Homo sapiens: one gene and its partners. The protein of the gene in region 1 interacts with the protein of each later gene in a biochemical or structural test. Each region holds a gene or a part of one and is shown in the gene's direction. Other genes may lie near its edges.

Evidence for each region. The genes of interacting proteins can lie anywhere in the genome.
Region 2: the proteins of PATJ (region 1) and MAP2K2 interact in a test that uses a peptide from one of them, tested with the Homo sapiens proteins (one large-scale study listed by IntAct).
Region 3: the proteins of PATJ (region 1) and AGMAT interact in a test that uses a peptide from one of them, tested with the Homo sapiens proteins (one large-scale study listed by IntAct).
Region 4: the proteins of PATJ (region 1) and EFNB3 interact in a test that uses a peptide from one of them, tested with the Homo sapiens proteins (one large-scale study listed by IntAct).

Annotation. Positions count from the first base shown.
Region 1 is NC_000001.11:61,762,137-61,767,218, forward strand, and holds part of PATJ (inaD-like protein), read left to right. Parts: intron 1-721; 5' UTR 722-756; coding exon 757-778; intron 779-876; coding exon 877-1,043; intron 1,044-4,142; coding exon 4,143-4,337; intron 4,338-5,082.
Region 2 is NC_000019.10:4,117,616-4,121,122, reverse strand, and holds part of MAP2K2 (dual specificity mitogen-activated protein kinase kinase 2), read left to right. Parts: intron 1-3,493; coding exon 3,494-3,507. UniProt on the Homo sapiens protein: Catalyzes the concomitant phosphorylation of a threonine and a tyrosine residue in a Thr-Glu-Tyr sequence located in MAP kinases. Activates the ERK1 and ERK2 MAP kinases.
Region 3 is NC_000001.11:15,571,192-15,575,051, reverse strand, and holds the end of AGMAT (guanidino acid hydrolase, mitochondrial precursor), read left to right. Parts: intron 1-210; coding exon 211-295; intron 296-1,327; coding exon 1,328-1,401; 3' UTR 1,402-3,353; downstream 3,354-3,860. UniProt on the Homo sapiens protein: Hydrolyzes linear guanidino acids to form urea and the corresponding amines. Displays specificity for substrates having a negatively charged head group and short chains including taurocyamine, guanidino propanoic and butanoic acids.
Region 4 is NC_000017.11:7,708,202-7,711,879, forward strand, and holds the end of EFNB3 (ephrin-B3 precursor), read left to right. Parts: coding exon 1-49; intron 50-233; coding exon 234-326; intron 327-433; coding exon 434-538; intron 539-965; coding exon 966-1,375; 3' UTR 1,376-3,171; downstream 3,172-3,678. UniProt on the Homo sapiens protein: Cell surface transmembrane ligand for Eph receptors, a family of receptor tyrosine kinases which are crucial for migration, repulsion and adhesion during neuronal, vascular and epithelial development.

The DNA of each region.
Region 1 (5,082 bases):
AGGTGTCATATTTTGGGAGTAGCATGTTCTGAAGCCTGTCATAGTCAGTTCCCTATGACCCTGCCCCAGGTAAATTAATCTATAATTGTAGATTAGTTTTGTCAGTACTTGAACTTCATATGAATGTAATCATACAGTATGGTTTGTGCCTTTTTTGGGTCAGGTTTCTTTTTTTCCACATATCATTTTTGAGATTTATCCTTGTTGTGTGTATCAGTAATTTTTCCTTTTTATTTCTGAATATTATATACCATTTGTTTATTCATCTGTTACTAGACACTTGGGTTTTTCTAGTTTTGGGGTTTTTGTAAATAAAAATGCTGTAAACTTTCATGTGCAGGCGTTTTTGTGAGCATATATTTTCATGAATACTGAGTAAGTATTTGTGAGTGGAAGTGCTGGGTCATATAGTAAGTGTATTTTTAACTTTATAAGAAACTACCAATTTTCCGAAGTGGTTGTGATATTTTACGTTTCTCTTAGCAATGTACAATAATAGTTCCAGGCACTTCACAGCCTCGTTGAAACTTAGTGTTGTCTGTTTTTAAATTTTAGTTACCTTAGTGGGTGTGTAGTGGCACCTCATTGTGGTTATAATTTTGAATTTCACTGAGTGGAGCCTTGATAAAGAATGTTCTTGAGGTTTTCCTTAATTTTTCTACAGGATTGTAGCCATATACAATTGAAATTCATCTTTTATATTGTTAAATTTTTTCTTTAGGTGTCTTTAAGAGTGATTGAAGAGAATAATTCAAAATGCCTGAAAATCCTGCTACAGGTATACTGGATATATTGTTCTATAATTAAATTAATTATTTAAAAATGGAATCTCAAATGGGACTTAACTATTACTCTACTTATTCATCTTGACCCAAGATAAACTGCAGGTGCTGCAGGTACTTGATCGCCTGAAAATGAAATTGCAGGAGAAGGGTGACACGTCGCAGAATGAGAAGTTATCTATGTTTTATGAGACACTAAAGAGTCCTCTCTTCAACCAGATACTCACACTTCAGCAGTCCATCAAGCAACTGAAGGGTCAAGTAAGTTACCCATCAGAGTTTTACATTAATATATTATATTAATATATTCAAACCATCAAAGAAAGATAGAGGAGATAGACAAAGACAAATTATCTTTAAGGACTCAGTTCAGCAAAGAGACTGTATTGGGACCTGTAACCTATAACCTGTGGGTAGCATTGGCATAGATAATTTAGAAATATCAATAATCAATTTTTTCTTTGGTAACTGGATGTGGTGGCATGTACCGGTAGTCCCAGCAACTCAGGAGTCTGAGGTGGGAGGACTGCTTGAGCCCAGGAGTTCCAGGTTGCAGTGAGCTATGATCATGCCACTGCACTCCAGCCTGGATGGCAGAGTTGAGACCCTGTCTCAAAAAAAAAAAAAAAAATTGTGTTTGGTTTTAGAATATGGTTTTTGTACTTATTTAAGTATGTAAAGGTCAGATGCTTTGAGAATTCTCAACATCTTCAAAACTATAAAATAGTGCTTAACTTAAATATATTTTCTTTTTATTTTGAGACAAGGTTTCTCTCTGTCACTGAGGCGGGAGTGCAGTGCTGTGATCCTAGCTCACTGCAGCCTTGACCTCCCAGGCTCAAGCAATGTTCCCACCTCAGCTTCCAGAGTAGCTGGGATAGGTGTGTGCCACCACAGTTGGGCTAATTTTTAAAAATTTTATAGAGGCAGGGTCTCCCTATGTTGCCCAGGCTGGTCTCAAACTATTGGCCTCAAGCAGTCCTCCTACCTCAGCCTTCCAAAGTGCTGGGATTATAGGCATGAGCCACCTTGCCCAGGCGTATTTTCCTTATGAAGTCTTTTTTTGTGTGTGTGTGTGGTCTTTTTTTTTGTGTGTGTGTGTTATTATTATTATTTTTTTTAGTAGAGACGGGGTTTCACTGTGTTAGCCAGGATGGTCTGTATCTCCTGACCTTGTGATCCACCTGCCTCAGCCTCCCAAAGTGCTGGGATTATAGGCGTGAGCCACCTCGCCCGGCCGAAGTCTTTTATCTAACAAGAAGTGATCATGCCCTTATAGCACAATAGTCACACTTCTCTTAATTATCAAATATTTGTTGTCTTTCATGCGTATTCTGATTAGAAGTTCCTTGGAAGCAGAATACCTGGTATTTAAATATATAGTTATGTTTCTTCTACTCATTTACCACACTATCTGGATTCTTCAGGCTCTAATACATCATTATTGAATAAGGGACACATATCACCTCTTCTTAGAGGGGTGCAAATTAGCAGTTGTGGGATTTTTTTTTTTTTTTGGTGCTGAGATTGAACCAGAAATTAATTGTTTTAACTGTCCTCTTGGATTCTTTGTTTTGGGGTCAGGGATGGCAAATTACTTTTAAATCACCTATTCTGGAAGCTGAACTTGAATAGTAGCTATACCATAGATGAAATTTGGGCAGAATTTAAAACATAATTGGAGCTAATTTAGCACAGTTAAGTGAAAATTTACAAAATTTGGGAAAAAATGGTTTTTGCTGATAAACTAAAATGCTTGCCCATTAAGTATTTTGTGAGTGATTTGTTTATAGCCAATTAAGGATTAAATTCTACATGTGTCTTTCTGTGAATTGCTTTCTTTAGACCAGAATTTATACCCTAATTTTAGCACTGCCTATATTGATGTTTAGCTTTCTGTATTTCTCTTGGTCACAGAATATCACAATAGTGAATGCTGTTGGTAGCAACTGAAATTGGCAAAGATCAGCAGAAATCTATCACACTTGTTGGACTAAGAGTGGCTGTAACTACCCTATCCTAATAACAATTCTTTATATTTGTATAGTTTGGAGTTGTTATGTACACAGTCATATTTTATGCATTGGACTGTATAATCCCTGTAGCCAGGGGTTTTTTATTTTTTCTTTGAGGTTTTATTGACATTCATTTTTTTTTTTTTTTTTTTTTTTTTTTTTTTTTGAGGCAGAGTATTTGCCTGGGCTAGAGTACAGTGGTGTGATTATGGATCATTGTAGCCTCAACCTCCTGGGCTCAAGCAATCCTCCCACTTCATCCTCCCAAGTAGCTGGGCCTACAGGCATGTGACACCATGCCCAGCTAATTTTTGTATTTTTTGTTGAGACAAGAGTCTCACTATGTTGCCCAGGCTGGTCTTGAACTCCTGGCCCTGAAGCAGTCCTCCCACCTTGATCTCCCAAAGTGCTGGGATTACAGGTGTGAGCCATCACACCCGGCCTAACATTTATTCTGTTTTTTTTTTTGGAGACAGAGTCTTGCTCTGTCATCCAGGCTGAGTGCAGTGGTGCAATCTCGGCTCACTGTAGCCTCCACCTGCGGGATTCAAGCAATTCTCTTGCCTCAGCCTCCCAAGTACCTTGGAATTACAAGTGTGTACCACCATGCCCGGCTAATTTTTGTATTTTTGATAGCGATGGGGTTTCACCACTGACATTTATTCTTAATGTTACCTTTATTCTACTGTTTTGGCAGTTGTATCAGCCAATGATATTTTAAATTATGTCCACCATAATTACATGATTCTCCTCTTTCTATCAATGTTTAAGTGGCTCCGTGACTCACTGCTAATCTTGAGTAAGTTACTTAACCCCTGTGTGCCTCGGTTTTTAGGCTCACAAAATGGGATAATGATATCTCATTAGATTGTTGTAAGAATTAAATGATAATACCTGCAATCATGCTGGTATAGTACTTACTCATAGCAAGCACTCAATAAGTACAGTTATTATCATTATATACTACCTGTGGATCTTTTGTTGCTCCCCACGTGGAATTGTACAGATAAATGGAAAAAGGTTTAGTGCCTTACACTGTTATGTGACTGGATGCATCTGTATATGTGAAGTGTAAAAAGATGTCAGTGTACATGCTGTTAACTTGGACTAGTGGTAGAAGGCAGGAAATAAGAACAAATTTTAAGCTATTAAACATTTTGTGTAATACTAAATTTAAAAAATTTTTAGCCTTGTGAATACACAGATTTGATCTATCTTTACCTTATTTCTTTTCCATGTATATATTTAATGTGCAAAGTATCTATGTAATGGTCAAAATATATTTAATAAATAGAAACAATTTTTCTATAGATTTCTGTTGATTCTTTTTTTTTCTCTCCAACAGCTCAACCATATACCCTCAGATTGTTCAGCCAACTTTGATTTTTCTAGGAAAGGTTTGTTAGTGTTCACAGATGGTTCCATCACTAATGGAAATGTCCACAGGCCCTCTAATAACTCGACTGTATCTGGGTTATTTCCGTGGACCCCGAAGTTGGGAAATGAAGACTTTAACTCAGTCATTCAACAGATGGCTCAGGTAAAGTTGTATCTTCTCATGGAAATATTTAGCTTCATTTCTCCTGTTTTAGTTTTACAAAGGAGCTTATACTCATTCTTTTTGCTGTAAAATGTATTAGTATGTATTTTGCTTGCTTCTATTTTTATATTGTTAGGAGAAACTGACACCATTTTCTAACCTGTGTGTTGAAAATTTATTGACTTAAAATTACATAAGGAAAGTATCCATGTATGTGGTAAGGAGAGCTTTTTAAAAAAAAATTAACATTTATTTTTTGAGATAAGGTCTTGCTAAGGAGAGTTTTTAGACAATGACTAATTGAACACATCTCTATTCTTGTTAAAATAAGATTTTTGGCCAAGCGCAGTGGTTCACACCTGTAATTGCATCACTTTCTGAGGCCGAGGAGGGTGGATCACTAGAGGTCAGGAGTTTGAGACTAGCCCGACCAACATGGCAAAACCCTGTCTCTACTAAAAATAGAAAAATTAGCCGGGCGTGGTGGCAGGCACCTGTAATCCCAGATAGTTGGGAGGCTGAGGCAGGAGAATCGCTTGAACCCCAGAGGCGGAGGTTGCAGTGAGCCGAGATTGCGCCACTGTACTCCAGCCTGGGTGACACCCCATAATTAATGGAAATTAGAACTAATGTAATTTGGAAAATCTAGAAAACATTTGGAAGGATAATCTGGTTGTAGCCCCTAATACCTATTAAAAATTAAATAATAAACAATTAAAATTTTGGACATGTTAGTTTTATGTAT
Region 2 (3,507 bases), on another chromosome or scaffold:
GTGGGGTCATGCCAGGGTGATCTCTGCACTCCCGTTCTGCAGGCCGAGGCAGGGCAGGGCGATCCCCGGGGCCCTTGGCTGGGGTCCGGGTGCCGTGCCTGCGGTGTGACCCCTCAAGAACCAGGTGTCAGGGACTGTGGCATGTCTGGTGGCCTCTCCCGCTTGGGGGTCGGCCTTCTGTGACCCAGATGAAGACTCTTGATGCCAATGTGTGCAAGTCAACACGGGCACAGCCAGACACGGGGACCCGTTCCTCATTCTCTGCACAGAACTCGCCCTTCACATTTCTCTTCCGTGTGGGGTTTGATTCCCATCTCTTGAAGGATTCCCCCAGGAGAGGAAGCTGGCTGTAGGGACGCCAAGGTTTTGTTTTGTTTTGTTTAATAACCACAGTTGGGTTGCCAGTAAATTTAAGATGGATTAGTCAGCTGACTCCAGAATGCATTTTCAATGTTTTGAGCAGTACTTGAGACCTTCCAAGTCTGCCATCAGAAGTGTTCATTCATGGCTGGGTGTGGTGGCTCACGCCTGTAATCCCAGCCCTTTGGGAGGCCAAGGTGGGTGGATTACTTGAGGCCCAGAGTTCAAGACCAACCTGGCCAACATGGCAAAACCCCGTCTCTATTAAAAATGCCAAAAAAATTAGCTGAGCGCGGTGATGCACACCTGTAATCCCAGCTACTCAGGAGGCTGAGGCAGGAGAATCGCTTGGACCCAGGAGGCAGAGGTTGCAGTGAGCTGAGATCGTGCCAGTGCACTCCAGCCTGGGCGACAGAGCAAGACTGTCTCAAAAAAAATAAATATTCATTTATTCATTGATGTTATTCATTCATTCATTCATGTTCCCCTCCTTACCTTCTGTCCCACTCCCAGGGTCTCGCCATTTCTGCTTCTTCTGGGTCCTTGTTCAGCAGCTCCTCAGTGAGCACCTACTAGGGCCCTGTTTCCCCTCATGGGGGACACTAAGATGAGCAGGGGTTGTCCTGACCTCAGGCAGGTGTTGTTACCTCGGGCAGGTTCCCCCACCCCTGTGAGTCTGTTCCCTCCTGCCTGGGCCTCCGGGGACGATGGTGAGAATGGAATGAGATGGTGTTTGTCCAGCCCAGGAAGCGGTGCCCAGGCCCCTGCCTTCCAGCGAGCTCTTTGCAGCACCAGCTCCAGCGCCATCGCCTCGGTTCTGGCCTGTGTGCCCCGTGGCTTACGCCACTTCCAGCTGTAGGCGAACAGTGGTCGAACTTTGGGATTGGAAATTTCCAGATGGAAGGAGCAGTCCACGCCTTCATTCCCTGCTTCAGTCCCCTCTCTGGCTGTCCACCTTGGCTTTAGCTCCTTCCTGAATTGGGACCTCTGGAGGTGGCCTGTTCTTCCAGAGAGCCATTTAAAGCTGCACTGCCTGGTTGAGTAGCCCCTGGCTACAGGCAACACATAAAACAAGAATTGCCCAAACCCACGAGAGCATAGGCGCAATAATGCCATTGTAGATTTCAAAGGCTTAAGACGGAAACAGTGTGAAACATTCATTCATTTTTCATACTGGTTGTACGTTGAAAATGATAACATTTTTGATGGGTTAAATCAAATGTGTTATTAAAATTAATTTCAGCCAGGTGCAGTGGCTTATGTCTGTAATCCCAGCACTTTGGGAGGCCAAGGTGGGCAGGTGGCTTGAACCCAGGAATTCAAGAGCAGCCTGACCAACATGGCGAAACCTTGTCTCTACTAAAAATACAAAAATTAGCTGGGCGTGGTGGCGGGTGCTTGTAATTCCAGCTACTTCGGAGGCTGAGGCAGGAGAATTGCTTGAACCCGTGAGGTGGAGGTTGCAGTGAGCCAAGATCACACCACTGTACTCCAGCCTGGGCGACAGAATGAGACTTTGTCTCAGAAAATAATAATAATAATAAAAATTAATTAATTAAAAAGAGCCAGACATGATGGCTCACACCTGTGATCCTAGCTACTAGGAAGGCTGAGGTGGGAGGATCACTTGAGGACAGGAGTTGGAGGCTGCAGTGAGCTGTAATCGTGCCGCTGCACCCCAGCTTGGGAGGTAGAGCAGGACCCTGTCTCTAAATAAATGAAGTGAGTTCACCTGTTCTTTTTAAACATGGGTACTAGAAGATTTTAATTTGTGCGCATGGTTTACATTCCATTGCTTGTGCACAGCAATGGGTTCCTGTGTGCATTGCGCTTAGTTGTCTGTTACTCCAGGATCTGGTTCTGAGTCAAGGCATTTGTGAAAATAGCTTACTGTCGAAATTTCCTCTGAAGATTCCTTGAATCACCCAATAAAGTGCAATGTACTTGCTTGTTTAAATTGTTAGAAATTTTTTATTGTGTAGAAACAAGGTCTTGCTCTGTCACCCAGGCTGGAGTACATTGTCACGATCATGGCTCACTGCAGTCTCGACCTCCTGGGCTCAGCCTCCTGAGTAACTAGAACTACAGGCATGAGCCACTGTGCTCGGCTATAGGTCTCACTTTGTTGCCCAGGCTGGTCATGCTTATTTTTTGTTTTTTTTGTTTTTTGGTTTGTTTTGTTTTGAGACAGAGCCTCCCTCTGCTGCCCAGGCTGGAGTGCAGTGGCAAGATCTCAGTTCACTGCAATCTCCCCCTCCCGGGTTCAAGCAGTTCTCGTGTCTCAGCCTCCCAAGTAGCTGGGACTGCAAACGTGCACCACCGTGCCTACCTGATGCAGCTTTTGTGCTGAGCCTTCTGCCCTCTACTCTTGGTTCTCATTCTGTGCTCTGAGGCTGCTCAGAACGCTTGTTCCTCTATCTCCTGCAAAGACAGACATCTTGGCCCGGGCTCCGTTCACCCGATCCCAGCTTCCTCGTCTCCTCCCGACATGGTCCGGAGCTCGTGCGTTAGGAAGGAGGTCTCCCGGCCGCGTGCAATGGCTCACGCCTATAATCCCAGCACTTTGAGAGGCTGAGGCAGGCGGATCACTCAATGTCAGGAGTTGGAGACCAGCCTGACCAACATGGCGAAACCCTGTCTCTACTGAAAATACAAAAATTAGCCGGGCATGGTGGCGGGAGCCTGTAATCTCAGCTACTTGGGAGGCTGAGGCAGGAGAATCTCTTGAACCCGGGAGGCCAAGGTTGCAGGGAGCCGAGATCGCGCCACTGCATTCCAGCCTGAGCAACAGAGGGAGACTCCGTCTCAAAAAAAAAAGAAAAAGAAAAGAAAAAGACGGAGGCTTCCTGGGTCCTTTGAGCTGCAGCTTATCCTTGAGGTCCTGAGGTCTGCTAGACTTGTTGAGACAGGATCAAGGCAGCGTCCTCAGTTCCCGGGGAGCCGCCCTGGATTCTGGTCATTGGTGTGTCTATGGGGGTACACAGCATGGATCCTTTCCTTCTACACCATGAACCCCTCAAGTGCAGGAATCCAGTCTGTGTCCTCCTGGGGGCCGATGCACCACGGCCACATAGCAAACGGCCAGATGGAGTCTCCCTAGGTAGCTAACCCCTACCCTGGGGGGTCTCTGCAGGGCAAACCTGGTGG
Region 3 (3,860 bases), about 46 Mb from region 1:
ACCACACCATGCAGCCCTGAGGAGCAGGGACTGTGTACGCATTATCTGTTTCTCTGGGAGGCCTGCCAGTGTGCCTGGCAGTCAACAAATGTTTATGGAGGGAAAGCCAATTCCAAGTCAAAGGGTGGCGTGGGCTGGGAAAAGCTCTACTGGGTGCTTTTCACTGTAAATGATTACCACTGTGGACAACTCAGTCTTGATCTTGAATAGGCTCTGGAGATCATCAGGGGTTGTCAAGGCCTGAACGTGATGGGCTGTGATCTTGTCGAAGTTTCACCACCGTATGATCTTTCTGGTGAGTAAGCAAAGAGACTGAGATCCATGGGCAGCCGGTAGCTTAAATTACACGAAGCTAGTTAATAAGTAGAAAATGGGGCCAGGCATGGTGGCCCAAGCCTGTAATCCCAGCACTTTGGGAGGCCAAGGTGGGCAGCTCACCTGAGGTCAGGAGTTCAAGACCAATTTGGCCAACATGGCGAAACCCCATCTCTCTAAAGATATAAAAATTAGCCAGGTGTGGTGGCACACACCTGTAATCCCAGGTACTCAGGAGGCTAAGGCAGGAGAATCGCTTAGAACCTAGGAGGCGGAGGTTGCAGTGAGCTGAGATTGCGCCACTGCACTCCAGCCTGGGTGACAGAGCGAGACTCCATCTCAAAAAAAAAAAAAAAAAGATGAGTCCCTTATATGACTTGGGGAAGCAGCTGAGCATGTCCAATGGTGAAGAAAACACACCTATTACTGCACACCTTACAAACATGAGCTCATTAACCCTAACAAAACCCCCAGGAGGTAGTTAAGTATCATTAGCTTGCCCACCAATCAGCAGAAGAGAAAGAAACCAGCCTGTAGTCTAGTGACAGGGTGGCCCAATCCCCGTCTCCTTTGATGTTTCATTGCAAAGTGAATTCTAAAGCATAAATAATATATGTTAATATTTATCAAATAGGAACTTAGCTGGTTAAGATCTTCAAAGCAGACGCCATCCCAATAATTTTAATGTAGACAAACTTATGGAATTAGGCCTATCGACCTCAGAGGATAGATAATACAGTACACATCATTATTATAGGTTCTCCTTTGGGAAAAATCTGTTCTCAGAGTAAACAAAGAACTTTCTGAATTTTAAAATATGATTCCCAAATGATGCTTGATGGAGGCAGAGAGCCTGGGCAAGCGTGTTCACAGCTGGCGGGCACCCTAGAGGGGTGCACAAGACAGGGCTCTGGAAAAGGAGGCACAAGGGGAAGAGAAAGCTGAGGAGTCCCAAGGCTTGGCTCAGCGGGTCGTCTGCAGGGTATTCATGTGAGGTTTTACTTTTTCTTAGGGAACACAGCCCTGCTGGCGGCTAACCTGCTGTTTGAGATGCTATGTGCTCTCCCCAAAGTGACAACCGTCTGAGTCTTGTGCTCTTCAAGACAAAACAGATTGCGTCGCTGACAAGTTCTCAAGAAGAACTTATGAGTAAGCAGTCTGAGAACTAAAGAGTTTATGCCAAGAAAACTTTCTGCTGAAAGTGTCATTGCTGGCTGTGAAGTCGGGATAATCAGTAGAATTCTCACCCAAACAGCAACATTTCTAAGGAACTTGGATTAATTGGGGGAAAAAAAAAGGAGTACTTGTACTGCTTTGATTTTTTTTCCTTTGATGAAAGATGGAGGATAAAGGGGAAGTGAGGAGAATTTCTTTCAAGATTATCTAAACATTAGAAACATGACATTTAAAAAAACTATGAAATAATACTGTATAAGCATTCCATATTTCTATATCTTCCTTTTAAACATTTTTTTTTTTGAGATAGAGTTTTGCTTGTCACCCAGGCTGGAGTGCAATGGCATGATCTCGGTTCATTGCAACCTCCGCCTCCCGAGTTCAATCGATTCTCCTGCCTCAGCCTCCTGAGTACCTGGGATTACAGGTGCCTGCCACCACGCCTGGCTAATTTTTGTATTTTTAGTAGAGACAGGGTTTCACCACATTGGCCAGGCTGGTCTTGAACTCCTGACCTAAGGTGATCCGCCCGCCTCAGCCTCCTTAAAGTGCTGGGATTACAGGCATGAGCCACCGCACCCAGCCGCTTTTTAAAATTTTGATGATCTGCTTCCTAGAGTATTGAGTATCTTCCTTTAAACTACAGCTCCTCCTCGGACGCTGCAGTGAGCTGAGATCGCACCACTGCACTCCAGCCTGGGTGCCAGAGCAAGACTCCATCTCAAAAAAAAAAAAAAAAAATACAGCTTCTCCTATGAGGTGCTTAGGGCTGCATCTTGGTTTTAGGACCACTGTGAACGTAAGTAAAAAGTATAAAGTAACACGGAGAGCCTAATGAAGAAACTTCTTGCTCAGAGGCCTAGAAGGGTACACAAAATGTCTTCTAAACTAGAAAACCTAAGGCTGGACACGGTGGCTCATGCCTGTAATCCCAGCACTTTGGGGGGCGGAGGTGGGCAGATCACTTGAGGTCAGGAGTTCGAGACCAGCCTGGCCAACATGGTGAAAACCCATCTCTACTGAAAATACAGAAGTTAGCTGGGCGTGGTGGCGCGTGCCTATAGTCCCAGCTACTCAGGAAGCTGAGGCAGGGGCATTGCTTGAACCCGGGAGGTGGAGGTTGCAGTGAGCTGAGGTCATGCCACTACACTCCAGCCTGGGTGACAGAGTGAGACTCCGTCTCCAAAAAAAAAAAAAAAAAAAAAAAAGCAGGCCGGACCCAGTGGCTCACGCCTGTAATCCCAGGCCTAGGCGGGAGGATCACCTGAGGTCAGGAGTTCAAGACCAGCCTGGCCAACATGGTGAAACCCCGTCTCTACTAAAAAACAAAACAAAACAAAACAAAACAAAAAAACCCCAGAAAACAAAACAAAACTGGAAAATGTCAGCTGGGCTTTTTTTTTTTTTTTTTTTTCTGAGATGGAGTCTCGCTCTGTCCCCCAGGCTGGAGTGCAGTGGCCCGATCTTAGCTCACTGCAATCTCCGCCTCCTGGGTTCAAGCAATTCTGCTGCCTCAGCCTCCTGAGTAGCTAGAATTACAGTCATGCGTCACCACGCCCGGCTAATTTTTGTATTTTTAGTAGAGACGGGGTTTCACCATGTTGGCCAGGCTGGCAGCTGGGCTCTTAATGTTACTTATTGTAACTCACTTCCTGTAAGACTCAATCTACTCTTCAAGTTGATGTACCCTCTATGACTGTAATTCCTGAAATCTGCAGTTATGCTGTGGTGATCTTAAGCGTGTCTTGAGTTCCATGCAAATTCAATTCTGTTGATAATGTGTCCATAATCAAATCATCATCTTGCAATGCAAGGGCTACCCCATAATTATCAGACATTAAAATAGTTTATTTCTTTTTCCATTCTGTAATCTTAAAATAACATCAGCTTCAGTGCCTGTTCACAATACAAAAAAAGTCAAAAAACAAAAACAACACCCAAAACATAAAAAAGAAACAATTTGCCAAATAAGTTATTTGTTCCTAAGAGTATCAAAAGTGCAAAATATTCACCTTCTTTTCAGATCTCTCCCAAGCATAATTATCCTCCTTGACAAACTGAACAGACAGATTCAGCAGCTGCCACACTGCACTTGTTTTTAGGGGACAATGTCAGACAGGTGGATGTGAACTACAGTTCCTCTGTAAAGATGTTTGGCATCAGCTTTTAAAGAATTCTAGTTAACAAAACAGGTCTGAGTATGTGCTTCCAATCTCTATTCCCAAACAAAGGAAATCACTAAAAAAACAGATCACACTTCTTTTTATAACAGAAAAATATTTATGTAATGATGGCAGCTGCAAATTGATTGGGATGTTAATAAATAAAAAGGAACAAGTATCAACAAGCTGCAAATGAGGAAGAAACCA
Region 4 (3,678 bases), on another chromosome or scaffold:
AATCTCTGGGGCCACGAGTTCCGCTCGCACCACGATTACTACATCATTGGTACTGCTGGGCAGAGGGCACGATTGAGTGGGGGGCTCCTGATACTGAGCAGAGAGGGAGGGGGACCCCTGCAGCCAAGAGGGAGATCCCAGTGCCCTCAGGCAGTGTTCACACCAGGGTGTGGGGCCAGAATCAGGGCTAGATTCTGGAGTGCCAACCTCTTCCTCTGGCTTTTCTCTCCCAGCCACATCGGATGGGACCCGGGAGGGCCTGGAGAGCCTGCAGGGAGGTGTGTGCCTAACCAGAGGCATGAAGGTGCTTCTCCGAGTGGGACAAAGTGAGTGGGGCTGGGGGACACCTCCTGGGCACGAAGGGACGTTGGGGCAGTACGATCATGGTTGGGGCAGTTGTCTCAGCCCCTCTCTGGGTCTTCCTCATCTCCAGGTCCCCGAGGAGGGGCTGTCCCCCGAAAACCTGTGTCTGAAATGCCCATGGAAAGAGACCGAGGGGCAGCCCACAGCCTGGAGCCTGGGAAGGAGAACCTGCCAGGTAGGAACCAGGGGCTAGGCCCCTGCCTTCCCCAGCTTCCTCTGCTCTCAGACCCCAGCTGCCCTGCCGTCACCCTCCCTCCCTCTTCAGTTTTGGGGGCGGTGATACAGGAAAGAGGAGAAGAGAGGATGGGAGGGTGGGAGGGGAATGGAAACCAAATGAGGAAAAGACTCAATTAGAACTAATTAGCCAAGTCAGTGCTTCAATCAGTGCTGTCAGAGAAGTGGGGAGGACTCCGTGGCAGGAAGCTGAAGGGCTGGACACCTGGATTCTGAGCAGAGTTCGGAGGGGGAGGAGAGATGGGGTCCCCAAGGGGCCTGGGCGCTACAAGGGAAGCCCATGGGGACCCCCAGGGTTGGGTGTCCAGGTGCCCAGGTGGCTCCTTCAGTCCCTCCCCCTCTTTCCTCCTTCACCCCTTCCCTGCCAGGTGACCCCACCAGCAATGCAACCTCCCGGGGTGCTGAAGGCCCCCTGCCCCCTCCCAGCATGCCTGCAGTGGCTGGGGCAGCAGGGGGGCTGGCGCTGCTCTTGCTGGGCGTGGCAGGGGCTGGGGGTGCCATGTGTTGGCGGAGACGGCGGGCCAAGCCTTCGGAGAGTCGCCACCCTGGTCCTGGCTCCTTCGGGAGGGGAGGGTCTCTGGGCCTGGGGGGTGGAGGTGGGATGGGACCTCGGGAGGCTGAGCCTGGGGAGCTAGGGATAGCTCTGCGGGGTGGCGGGGCTGCAGATCCCCCCTTCTGCCCCCACTATGAGAAGGTGAGTGGTGACTATGGGCATCCTGTGTATATCGTGCAGGATGGGCCCCCCCAGAGCCCTCCAAACATCTACTACAAGGTATGAGGGCTCCTCTCACGTGGCTATCCTGAATCCAGCCCTTCTTGGGGTGCTCCTCCAGTTTAATTCCTGGTTTGAGGGACACCTCTAACATCTCGGCCCCCTGTGCCCCCCCAGCCCCTTCACTCCTCCCGGCTGCTGTCCTCGTCTCCACTTTTAGGATTCCTTAGGATTCCCACTGCCCCACTTCCTGCCCTCCCGTTTGGCCATGGGTGCCCCCCTCTGTCTCAGTGTCCCTGGATCCTTTTTCCTTGGGGAGGGGCACAGGCTCAGCCTCCTCTCTGACCATGACCCAGGCATCCTTGTCCCCCTCACCCACCCAGAGCTAGGGGCGGGAACAGCCCACCTTTTGGTTGGCACCGCCTTCTTTCTGCCTCTCACTGGTTTTCTCTTCTCTATCTCTTATTCTTTCCCTCTCTTCCGTCTCTAGGTCTGTTCTTCTTCCCTAGCATCCTCCTCCCCACATCTCCTTTCACCCTCTTGGCTTCTTATCCTGTGCCTCTCCCATCTCCTGGGTGGGGGCATCAAAGCATTTCTCCCCTTAGCTTTCAGCCCCCCTTCTGACCTCTCATACCAACCACTCCCCTCAGTCTGCCAAAAATGGGGGCCTTATGGGGAAGGCTCTGACACTCCACCCCAGCTCAGGCCATGGGCAGCAGGGCTCCATTCTCTGGCCTGGCCCAGGCCTCTACATACTTACTCCAGCCATTTGGGGTGGTTGGGTCATGACAGCTACCATGAGAAGAAGTGTCCCGTTTTGTCCAGTGGCCAATAGCAAGATATGAACCGGTCGGGACATGTATGGACTTGGTCTGATGCTGAATGGGCCACTTGGGACCGGAAGTGACTTGCTCCAGACAAGAGGTGACCAGGCCCGGACAGAAATGGCCTGGGAAGTAGCAGAAGCAGTGCAGCAGGAACTGGAAGTGCCTTCATCCAGGACAGGAAGTAGCACTTCTGAAACAGGAAGTGGTCTGGCTGGAACTCCAAGTGGCTTAGTCTGGGGGATCAGGAGGTGGGAGGTGGATGGTTCTTATTCTGTGGAGAAGAAGGGCGGGAAGAACTTCCTTTCAGGAGGAAGCTGGAACTTACTGACTGTAAGAGGTTAGAGGTGGACCGAGAAGGACTTTTCCCAGTCTTCAGTGGCACTTCCCAAGATCTCCCTTCCCTTGTGCTCTGTGCTGATTTTAGGACAGCTAAGATGACTGCCATGTGCTGTGGCAGGCCTAATTTGTCTTGTTCTTTCCTTTCCATATCCCAGTATAATCTCTGTTAATCAACAGGACTACCCCAAGAACCCATGTGCTCTCCCGAGTAACCCAGATGGCTGTCTTGTTCATTCCATCCTACATTTCTGACTCCTTTCAGACTCAACACAGTTCCCTTCTTAGTGACCAAAATGGTGGCCTACTGGCTGGTCTAGCTGACAGTGGTACTTAGCAAAGGCCACTGTTTCCATAGTGACCAGCTGATACCTCTTCCTGCCCTCTAGTGTGCAATTGGGTGTTGCCTCAGTTTCCTCCCAGCTCAGTTTTATTAGATCAAAGCTGTTGTTGGGCACCAGGTTGGCCACCTCAATCACCAGCCAAGATGGTTGCTTTGTCCACCAGAGGTCAAGTTCACCTCTCTGGTGCTGTAGTTCCCAGCTCCTTCCTGATTTTTCTAATCGCTCCTTCTGGGGAACAGGAAGTTGATATTGCCATGGTGGCGGGGTATGCCGTCACCTCAGTAGTTTTACTGTAAAAGGGAAATTTGAACAACAAAAACCAAAAAAAATAAAAATAAAAAACTTCAAAAGTTGACAAGAAGGCTGGAGAATGACTGGACTTGAATTGGGACAAAGGCTTGGTTAGAATGGCTTTCAGCTGAGGGTTGGATTGCATGAAACCAACCAAGGGGGGTGGGTAGGGATAGGGCTAGTTTGGAGTGGTGAGGTTGGCAGTGCTTGGGGAGGCGAAAATGGGCTGGGCGAGAAGGCAGAGGAAGGTGTCACCTCTAGGGGAGGGAGAGAGTAATGCAGGCAGGAGTGGGGTCGCCAATTCATCCATGGGGACAGTCTGAGTGTCTTGCTAAGCCAAAGCACCAGAGACAGGGTAAGACGCAATTAGGATCAAAGTGGTAAAAACATGTTCACATGTTAAAGTCTATTCCCTACCATCCCTACCCAAGGCACTTGAGAAGTTTTGCTGTTGGGGACTCATGGGGAGAAGGGATGTGGCTGATCAGAAGGAAGTAGGAAGGACTCAGGGAGGGACCCAGGCATCAAGCTGCGTGTGCCCTGGCTCCCTGTATACCCATAACCGAGGCTC